Linked DNA regions of Homo sapiens: region 1 is linked to region 2. The links come from fine-mapping of genetic effects on gene expression. A gene starts in region 2. The other region holds a variant in brackets. All regions are shown on one strand. Distances are between the middles of the regions. Region 1 overlaps NHSL2 (NHS like 2). Region 2 holds the start of NHSL2 (NHS like 2).

Region 1 (4,387 bases), 200 kb after region 2:
GGATCATCCTCTGAGATGATCTTGGGGCGTTTGGAGTGATTGTGCTCAACAAGGAAGAAAAGGCAGGGAGAGAAAAGAGGCCAAGGCAGGGAATTGTCATAGGCTGGCATCTCCAAGAAACAGATTTGGAGATATTGATTTGCCTGCAAAAGGTTTGTTGGGAACTGCCTTCTAGAACAGCACCTGTGAGGGAGCAGGATCGGTCAGAGACAGGAGTTCACCTGCAGTGTGGGCACACTGGAGACCTCAGTTGATAACATGGGAAGCTCTGGAGCTGAGATGCTCTTCAGATGGCCCCAGTTGAGGCCAGGCAGCTGGGCCTTTCTTCCCCCACCTCCCACCCCACCCCATCTATTAACGAGATCTTGGATGCAGGCTGCCCCCCAGGAAAGGGGTTGTTACCTTGGAGAAGAGACTCAACCGTGAGCCATGGACCAACACCTCTGGTAGCTGGGGGACTGAGTGCCTTGGTCCTGAATGGGGGATCAAGCAGCTCAAGGTCTGGTGTTCTAGTCACTCAGGAAATGCAACTGGCTCCCTCCCACCCTGCAGGCCTCTGGGCAAGTCCCTCCCTGCAGCCCAAAGCCAGGTATAGGAGTCCCAGGGACAGGGAGTCAGGACCTAAAAGGAATTTGAGTCCTTGATGCCTGTAATTCAGAGTCCTCAGTCTTTCCCCCAACCTCTCTCACTTGGGGCTAAGATAAGTGGGATGAGGTAGGCGGAAGTTGGAGGGAACCGTGCCGTTGTCATCTTCTGCACAGTTTGTTTATAAGAGGTTACCAAACTAAGCAAATCAGCCACCATGGAAACAGTCTCTGTGGCTTTCACATCCCTCCCTTCCTTCTGGGGTGACCTGCATCTCAAAGAGGGATGTCACCACAGTTGAGGTTACAGGTCTGCTCACAAGGCCTGTGAGCTACCCAGGAAATGCAATACTGTTATAGCCACCAGGTGAAAGAAGGTTGGGCTTCATTTTTAAAGAGAGAAATATAAAAACTTGACTTTCGATTTTGACGTTCATGTCCTTACGCCAAAAAATCAAACCAAATAGCAACTGAACTGACTACGTGTAATTTCCCCCAAACCTTTGAAATTTACAGTAGCTCTAGGAAACTTGAATCCATGAGGCCGGGCGCGGTGGCTCACGCCTGTAATCCCAGCACTTTGGGAGGCTGAGGCGGGCAGATCATGAGGTCAGGAGATCGAGACCATCCTGGCTAGCACAGTGAAACCCCGTCTCTACTAAAAATACAAAACATTAGCCGGGCGAGGTGGCGGGTGCCTGTAGTCCCAGCTACTCAGGAGGCTGAGGCAGGAGAATGGCGTGAACCCCGGGGGGGCAGAGCCTGCAGTGAGCCGAGATCGCGCCACTGCACTCCAGCCTGGGCGACAGCAAGACTCTGTCTAAAAAAAAAAAAGAAACTTGAATTCATTCATTCATTCCCTCATTACACACACACACACACACACACATACACACACAAAGGTTCTGAGTTTGCAAGATGATAGGCTGAAAGACCAAGTGTGGCCTGAAGTTCAGGTTTTTTTGTTCTGCATGGTTTAAAAAACGAATTTTCCACACTCAGAAGTGCAGCTTAAAAATAAATAAACAAATACCATCTCATGCCAGTTAGAATGGCGATCATTAAAAAGTCAGGAAACAACAGATGCTGGGGAGGATGTGGAGAAATAGGAATGCATTTACACTGTTGGTGGGAGTGTAAATTAGTTCAACCATTGTGGAAGACAGTGTGGCGATTCCTCAGGGATCTAGAACTAGAAATACCATTTGACCCAGCCATCCCATTACTGGGTATATACCCAGAGGATTATAAATCATGCTACTATAAAGACACACACACAGATATGTTTATTGTGGCACTATTCACAATAGCAGACTTGAAACCAACCCAAATATCCATCAATGATAGACTGGATTAAGAAAATGTGGCACATACACACTATGGAATACTGTGCAGCCATAAAAACAAATGAGTTCATGTCCTTTGCAGGGACATGGATGA[G/A]GCTGGAAATCATCATTCTCAGCAAACTATCACAAGGACAGAAAACCAAACACTGCATGTTCTCACACATAGGTGGGAGTTGAACAACGAGAACACATGGACACAGGAAGGGGGAACATCACACACCGGGGCTTGTCGGGGGGTGGGGGCTGGGGGAGGGATAGCATTAGGAGAAATACCTAATGTAAATGACGAGTTGATGGGTGCAGCAAACCAACATGGCACATGTGTACCTATGTAACAAACCTGCACATTGCACACATGTACCCTAGAACTCAGAGTATAATAAAAAATAAATAAATAAAATTTTTTAAAAGGCCGGGCGCGGTGGCTCATGCCTGTAATCCTAGCACTTTGGGAGGCCGAGGTGGGTGGATCACGAGGTCAGGAGATGGAGACCATCCTGGCTAACACGGTGAAACCCCGTCTCTACTAAAAATACAAAAAAATTAAATAAATAAATAAATAAATAAACAATAAATAAATAATGTAAGTTAGTTCCCAATGCACTTTCTTAAAAAATCTTAAGATCTGGTCCCAATGGATGAATCAGCTAATACTAAGGGGTTTGGCCCCCTTGTGGGTAGGCAGGGAGTTCCACGGTTCACGGCAGGGCCCATTTAGCCTGCTTCTCTCTTTGGTGTTACCTGCCTGGGCCCTGCCAGTGTTTGTGCTCATGAGCCCTTGATTTGGCTAAGCTGGGTGCTGAGGTTACACAATGATAGATGATGTCATTGCTCTGCTCTGCTGTCTCCTCTGCCCTCAGGGCTCACCATCTCGTGGGGAGGACGACTCATGTGCACCAACAGACAGAAGACAGAGTCCCGGGGGGGTGTTGGAGGAAGGAACAACCCATGAGGAAAAGCGAAGTTGGGACAATGTCATAGAGACTCTAGGAGCAAGGGTAGACTTCTACTAGGTGGAAAAGAGGGCAGGGGTGGGAGAACGGCATTCTAGAGCAAAGGAACAATTCAGCTGATGAATGGTGCTCCTAAAGGAAGTGGCGCATGTGAAGCGGAGAAGAGGCAGGGGCCAGAATGGGAAGACCCTGTCAGCCAGCCTGAGGAACTGGCATTTTATCCTGATGGTTTTGAGGCAGAGGGAAGAGCTGATATGACTTGTGTGTGTCTAGAAGATGACTCTCTTGGCCCCGTGGAGGCTGGATCGTAAGAGAGCAAGATCTGAGGGAGGAAGAGCAGCAGGTAGGAGGTTCTTGTAATTGTTTAGGTGAGAAGTAACAGGGCTTTGATTTGGAGAGGTGCCAGTGAGTGGGAGAAGGAACAGATTTGAGAGGGAGTTAGGAGGTCAGATTGACAGGTCTTGGTGATTCCTCAAGGTGGAAAGTAAAAACCGGGACCCAGTGGCACAGTGGTGTGCAGTGTTATCCTAGCCATGGCAGTAGCTGCCCTTTGTTAAGGGTTCTGGAGCATTTGCAGTACTTGCCCTTACATTAACTCACCCCAGCCTCAAAGTCAAAGACACCAAACTTCTGCCTGTCCACAGGCTTCGTGCAGCACTTCCTAGGTGCCAGGCTGAAGTGTTGCCTTCACATTCACTCACTGCGTCATCACAACTTCCCTAGGAAGTAGTTACTATTCTTACGTCATTTTACAGATGAGGAAACAGAGGCCCATAGAGGCAACGTGAATCTCCCAGGGTCACACAGCTGATAAGCGACAGAGCCAGGATTTGAACCCACATCGTCTGCTCCAGAGCCTTCGCTCTGCTGCCTGGGGGCGGGACCAGAAGAGTGGTCACTGAGCACAGAGACCTTCTGCACACAGAGCAGCCTGAGCAAACTGCAGCAGGCTAGTAGTGTGTGCATCCCACACATTTCTCCAGTGAGCATCTAGACGTGAAATCCCGAGGCCTTGGATGGGCTTTCTAGTTCCAGAAATTTGAGGACATGCGGGTCCGGCAGGGAAGAAGGAAACGCTGAGCCCAGGTTGCCGGCACTGTAGGCAGTGAAGGAGAGCAGTCAGGTCACACCACACAGTTCCCTTCCCCGCCCCAGACCATAGACCCTCCAACAGCTTTCAGGTATGTCGAGCATCAAACCCCAATTCCTGACCGCAGCCCATAAGACTCTGAAGTAATATGGCCCCTGACCACCTCTGTGACATCTTTTCTTGCCATGCTCCCCTCATACATCGCACATACACTGGCTCCTTTCAGTCATCCTTTTCCACCCCAGGGCCTTTGCATTTGCTGTTTCCCCTGCCAAGTGTGCTCTTTTTCTCTTTGTGCGGCTGGTTCCTTCTTATCATTCAGATCTCCTCTGCTTTAGTGTGAACTCCGTGAGGGCATGGACTGTGTCTGTCCTGTTCACTGTTGTATTCCCCAAGCTTATGGGCCCAGTACAC
Region 2 (4,387 bases):
TCCAGAGCAGAGATCAGTCTAAACAGCTCATAGGTCAAGGAAAAGTATCCCTGGAGAGTCCAGCCAAGTCCCTGCTTCCTCCCAGTTGCTCTCTTGGCTCAGGTTTGAGTTTGCCAAATCGAGAATTTGGGGTTTTTATTCTGCAACTGGATTTTACATTTCAGAAAGGGTACAAGTCTTTTGCCCATTTGTTGATTCTTATTTTAATCAGAACCCAACTTTTCTAATATCCATGTTCTAATTTACTAAACAAGAAACAACTATATGCTGAAAAGGGAAATCGGATTACGCTTTTACTTTATTTTTAATTGACAAACAATTATATGTATTTATGGGGCACGATGTGGTTTGATGTATATATATTAATACATTGTGGAATGATTAAATCAAACTAGTTAACATATCCATTACCTCACATATTTACCATTTTTCTGTGGTGTGAACATTTAGAATCTATTAGCAATTTTGAAATATACTAGTTGTAGAACCTTCTTGAACTGCTTCAGGGACAATTAATTATCTGAAGGAATGCATGAAAACAGGCCACGCTTAGAATCATTAATGTAGATGCAGGTATTCTGTTCAAAGTATTTTACTGGCCAGTGTGGTGGCTCATGCCTGTAATCCCAGTGCTTTGGGAGGCTGAGGCAGGAGGATTGCTTGGGGCCAAGGAGTTTAAGGCCAGCCTGGGCAACATAGGGAGATTCCGTCTCTTCAAAAAATAAAAACTAAATTAGCAGGAGTGGTGGCACGTGCCTATAGCCCTAGCTACTCAGGAGGCTGAGACCGGAGGATCCCCTGAGCCCAGAGTGAATTCAAGGCTGCAGTGAGCTGTGACCACACCACTGCACTCCAGCCAGGGTGACAGTGGTAGATCTTGTCTCTTAAAAAAAAAAGTGTTTTGCTAATGGATTATAAAGGATTATAAGGATGTGAACATTTGTAAGAGGAAAAATGAGAAGAGAATGAAGAGAAGGAAGAAACCGAAGTACACCAAAGTCAAAGAAGTGGGTTAGAGGAGAGTCAGATGGGAGCTCAGTGTGTTGAAAATAAGCGTTCTGAGTGGAAAGGTCCTAAGTGCATGAGGACATATGCTCACGTACTCTGGTTTTCTGAGGACAATAATGTGCCCCCTCTTTTCTGCCTTCTGGAATGGAGAGAAATCAGGCCGTGACCACAGGGTTGCCCGCACTGAAAGCACATCTCGGCTCCTGTAACCCTCTTCGGAGAGCATCCCAGCAGCCCAGCCTGGCCAGGGATAGAGCCTATCCCAGCTGGCGGACCCTACCAGAAGGAGGCGTCCCTGGGCTCTCTTTTTGCATAAACTATGGAGTGGCGTCCCTCTATCTGAATTAAGTCTATTGTTCCAGAAAATGGGTTTGTTTCTATTCATCCACTCCAATGGCTTTACAATGTCCAGCCACTGTGGGACTCCCTAGAGACATTGTCTTCTTGAACAGTCGAATAAGATATTTGGTTTTTTGGTCCTTATTTCCAAGCTCCTGGGTGCTAGAAGGTTGTATTCACAGCCTAGTCTAGCCCGTGCGTGGCACCGAGTACGTTTGGGAAAGGAAATCTAGATCAATAAAGTCAAACTATTCGGTCGGTCTTCGCTGATTACCCGCTGGTGTGGGCGCGGGTGTGCTTGAATTTTTTTTTTTTTTTTTGTAATTATGAAGAAAAAGTTTAAGTTAAAAAAAAAAGCAAAAAATAACTTTAACCATCAGAACTGGGAGTGGAGCTCCTCAGGAGGACCGGGGCACACATTCTACACCGTACCTTACGTCCCCCCTCACGCAGACATTCCTTCTTTCACGCTCCAGCTCGCTCTTTTTACTCCTACTTCCCTTTCTCCCTCTCCCGGATCAAGCGTTAATCTGCGAATCTCTGACCGCAAAAGAAGAAAAAAAAAAAAGGTGGGTGGGGGGATCCCGAAGTAGCAGAGCTAGGAGGAGGAGGAGGAGAAAAGAGAGGAGGAGGAGGGGGGAGGAGGAGGAGGAGCCCGGCGAAGCAGAGTCAGAGGGACTGGTGGCTCCGGCGAGTGTGCAGCCCCGGGGGAGCCGGCGCTCTAGGCGAGGAACCCGTCAGCCCGCCTACCCGCCCGTCGTCTTTGGCGCCCGCACGCTCTCCGGCCCGCGCCCAGGGGCCTGCTACACCCGGAGCTGGGGCCGCCGCTCAGGGGCGCTCGGGCCAGGGGCGCTGCTCGGGGTGAGCCCGCCGCGCCGCCAGACTGGTCCCCTGCGCCCGCGCCCGCGGCCGGGATGCCGTTCTACAGGCGCACGGTGGTACCCCAGCGCCTGTGCCCGCGCAACCCGCCGCAGCAGCTGGCGGAGCTCCGCGACGTGAGCCACCTGGCAGCGCTCAGCCTGCTCCGGCAGCTCGCCGACCTCTGTGGCCACTCGTTGGCTCTGCTCGAGGACCTCGAGGGGCACCTGCTGGCCCTGGGGCGCCGCACAGACAGCCTGTACCGGCGCACCGTGCGCCTCCGCCGCCGCCTTCCCTGCCGCCTGCTTGGCCCGGAGGAGGACGAGGAAGAGCTAGGTAAAAACGGCGCCCCGGTGGCTCGCGGCCCCGCGTCTACCCCGCCTCTAGGGGCGCCGGTCGGCGCTTAGCGCTGTGCCCACCCTCTCCCCGCCTCTCTCCGCCCCTCCCCTCCCCTCCATTCGGGGAGTGAGGGGATCCCATTTCCCCGACCCCCGCCTCCGCCCCACGGTCGCCCTACCGCTGGAACTTCCTGCTCTTGGACCCGGTCGCGCCGTCCGGAGTGGCCCCGTGCCCTTGGGACTCCCGACCCTGGGGTTGGTGGCCGCCTCCTGGGGTTTTGGCTGGGGACGCGCTGGGTCCAGGACGGCTTGGGCGATACTCCCCCTACCCGCCCACCTAGCCCCAGGCCCTCGGCGCCGTCCTCATCGCCGCGTCGGGAGCTAAATGGCCGAGCCGCTGGCTTCTTTGCTCCTGTCTAGGAGCTCGGCCACTTCAGAAAGCGCGCCGCAGCCGACCGCAACCTACGCGGCGGCAGGAGCCGGCGGTGGTGCCTACAGGCTTTAAACCTGTGCAACTTCCCGCTGGAGCGTGGACGCGGCTCCCACTCACAGGAGTGTCTGAGCGTCCTCCCGCTTGCTTCTCTCCGCACGTTTTGGGCCGCTGTGCTGGGGAGTGGCCGGGAGGGGGGAGGGGAGAATGTCCGGGGCTTTGCTGACCCCCTACCCACTACCGCTAGGGTCTGGCTGTTATTTGCTGGAGAGAATCATTTAAAGAAACTATCATCAGTTTCCTGAAGCGCATTCACTTTAGGAATCAGCCATGCCTGAGAAACCAGGTTCCAGTGGTGCCCTCACTGAGCACGCGGGACGTGTGAGAGGGTAGGGGGGCTACGCGAGCCCTTGTCCTTTACTGTTTTGGATCCCAGCACTTTACACGGGGAATCCTCTGTCTGTGGAAATGCAGTGCCCCTGAGAGTGTGGGACTTCTGCTGAAAGCAAGGGGACTGAGTAGGCTGGAAATGCTGACTACAGCTGGGGCATGCCAGGTACCAGGGCCAATCGGTTCCTCCAGAAAGCTGGGGAGAGAAGGAGCAGTGTGGCCAGAAAGTTTCCAATGGGGGCAGAAGATGACTGCTGGCTGATTTCTGAGTGCAAGCTTCCAGCTAACTTGGGAAAGAATTGCCTGGGCCAGCCCCTCTTCATTGCAGACCCCACCCCATCCCCACCCCTTCCAGAAGGACTGGAGTCAGGCCCTGGCACCTCTCTTCATAAAGGTCTCTGACCTCTGAGGTAGATGGCAGAGGTCTCTGGTGGAGATAAATGAACTGAGTCCTATTGGAAAAGAAAGGTGGAAGCCACAGATGACTGCCAGATGGAATGTAGACGTTGGACCAGGAGCCTCTGCATGGCAGGGGCTCAGTTTTTTGCTGGGGTCCCACTGATTACAGGATTAGTCTAGGAGAAATTTGATAAGTCAGCTTGAGGAGTAGTTTTCAAAATCCCTACACAGTTTGCAGAGAGCCACCTACTGAGTTCAGTAGGGTAAGTTAAGGACAGTTTTTTCAACTCTACCTTCCTGTCCACTGAATTAGCAAGCCCTTTCTGTGGGAGGGAAGGCAGGGCTTCACCAAGTCACCTTTGGGACCTAACCCTCTCCGGTGATCTGCCAGGTTAGAAGGAGATGGCTTTATGCAATGGATAGCTTGCAATGGAGAGGAACAATTGTTAAGTTAAATTACCACTGGTTTGGCTTCTTGGCAGTTTTCAAGAGCAGGAAGAGTGGCCATCTCTCATCCCTGGTGTGGCCTCTTGCTTTTGAGAATGTACATGTCCCACGGCTCAGAGGCACCCAAGGGACTGCTGCATAAATGGAACACAGCTACCTTCTGTAAGTTGGTGAAAAG

What was found. PIP is the estimated chance that this variant, and not a neighbour inherited with it, causes the effect. A credible set is the group of variants that fine-mapping cannot tell apart.
Region 1: its variant is the best candidate, but not a certain one, in a credible set for the expression of NHSL2 in whole blood (TOPMed, PIP 0.86).

What each region holds. Positions count from the first base shown.
Region 1 is chrX:72,104,802-72,109,188 of GRCh38, forward strand. The region is part of intron 1 of NHSL2 (NHS like 2); the gene reads left to right. Among named protein-coding and RNA genes, the nearest start is that of RTL5, 25 kb to the right of the region's middle. The variant G/A (reference allele first, on the strand shown) is at 2,025.
Region 2 is chrX:71,908,827-71,913,213 of GRCh38, forward strand. It overlaps NHSL2 (NHS like 2), which reads left to right and starts at 2,019. Exons shown (of 8, transcript NM_001013627.3): 1 at 2,019-2,541. The coding sequence starts at 2,262.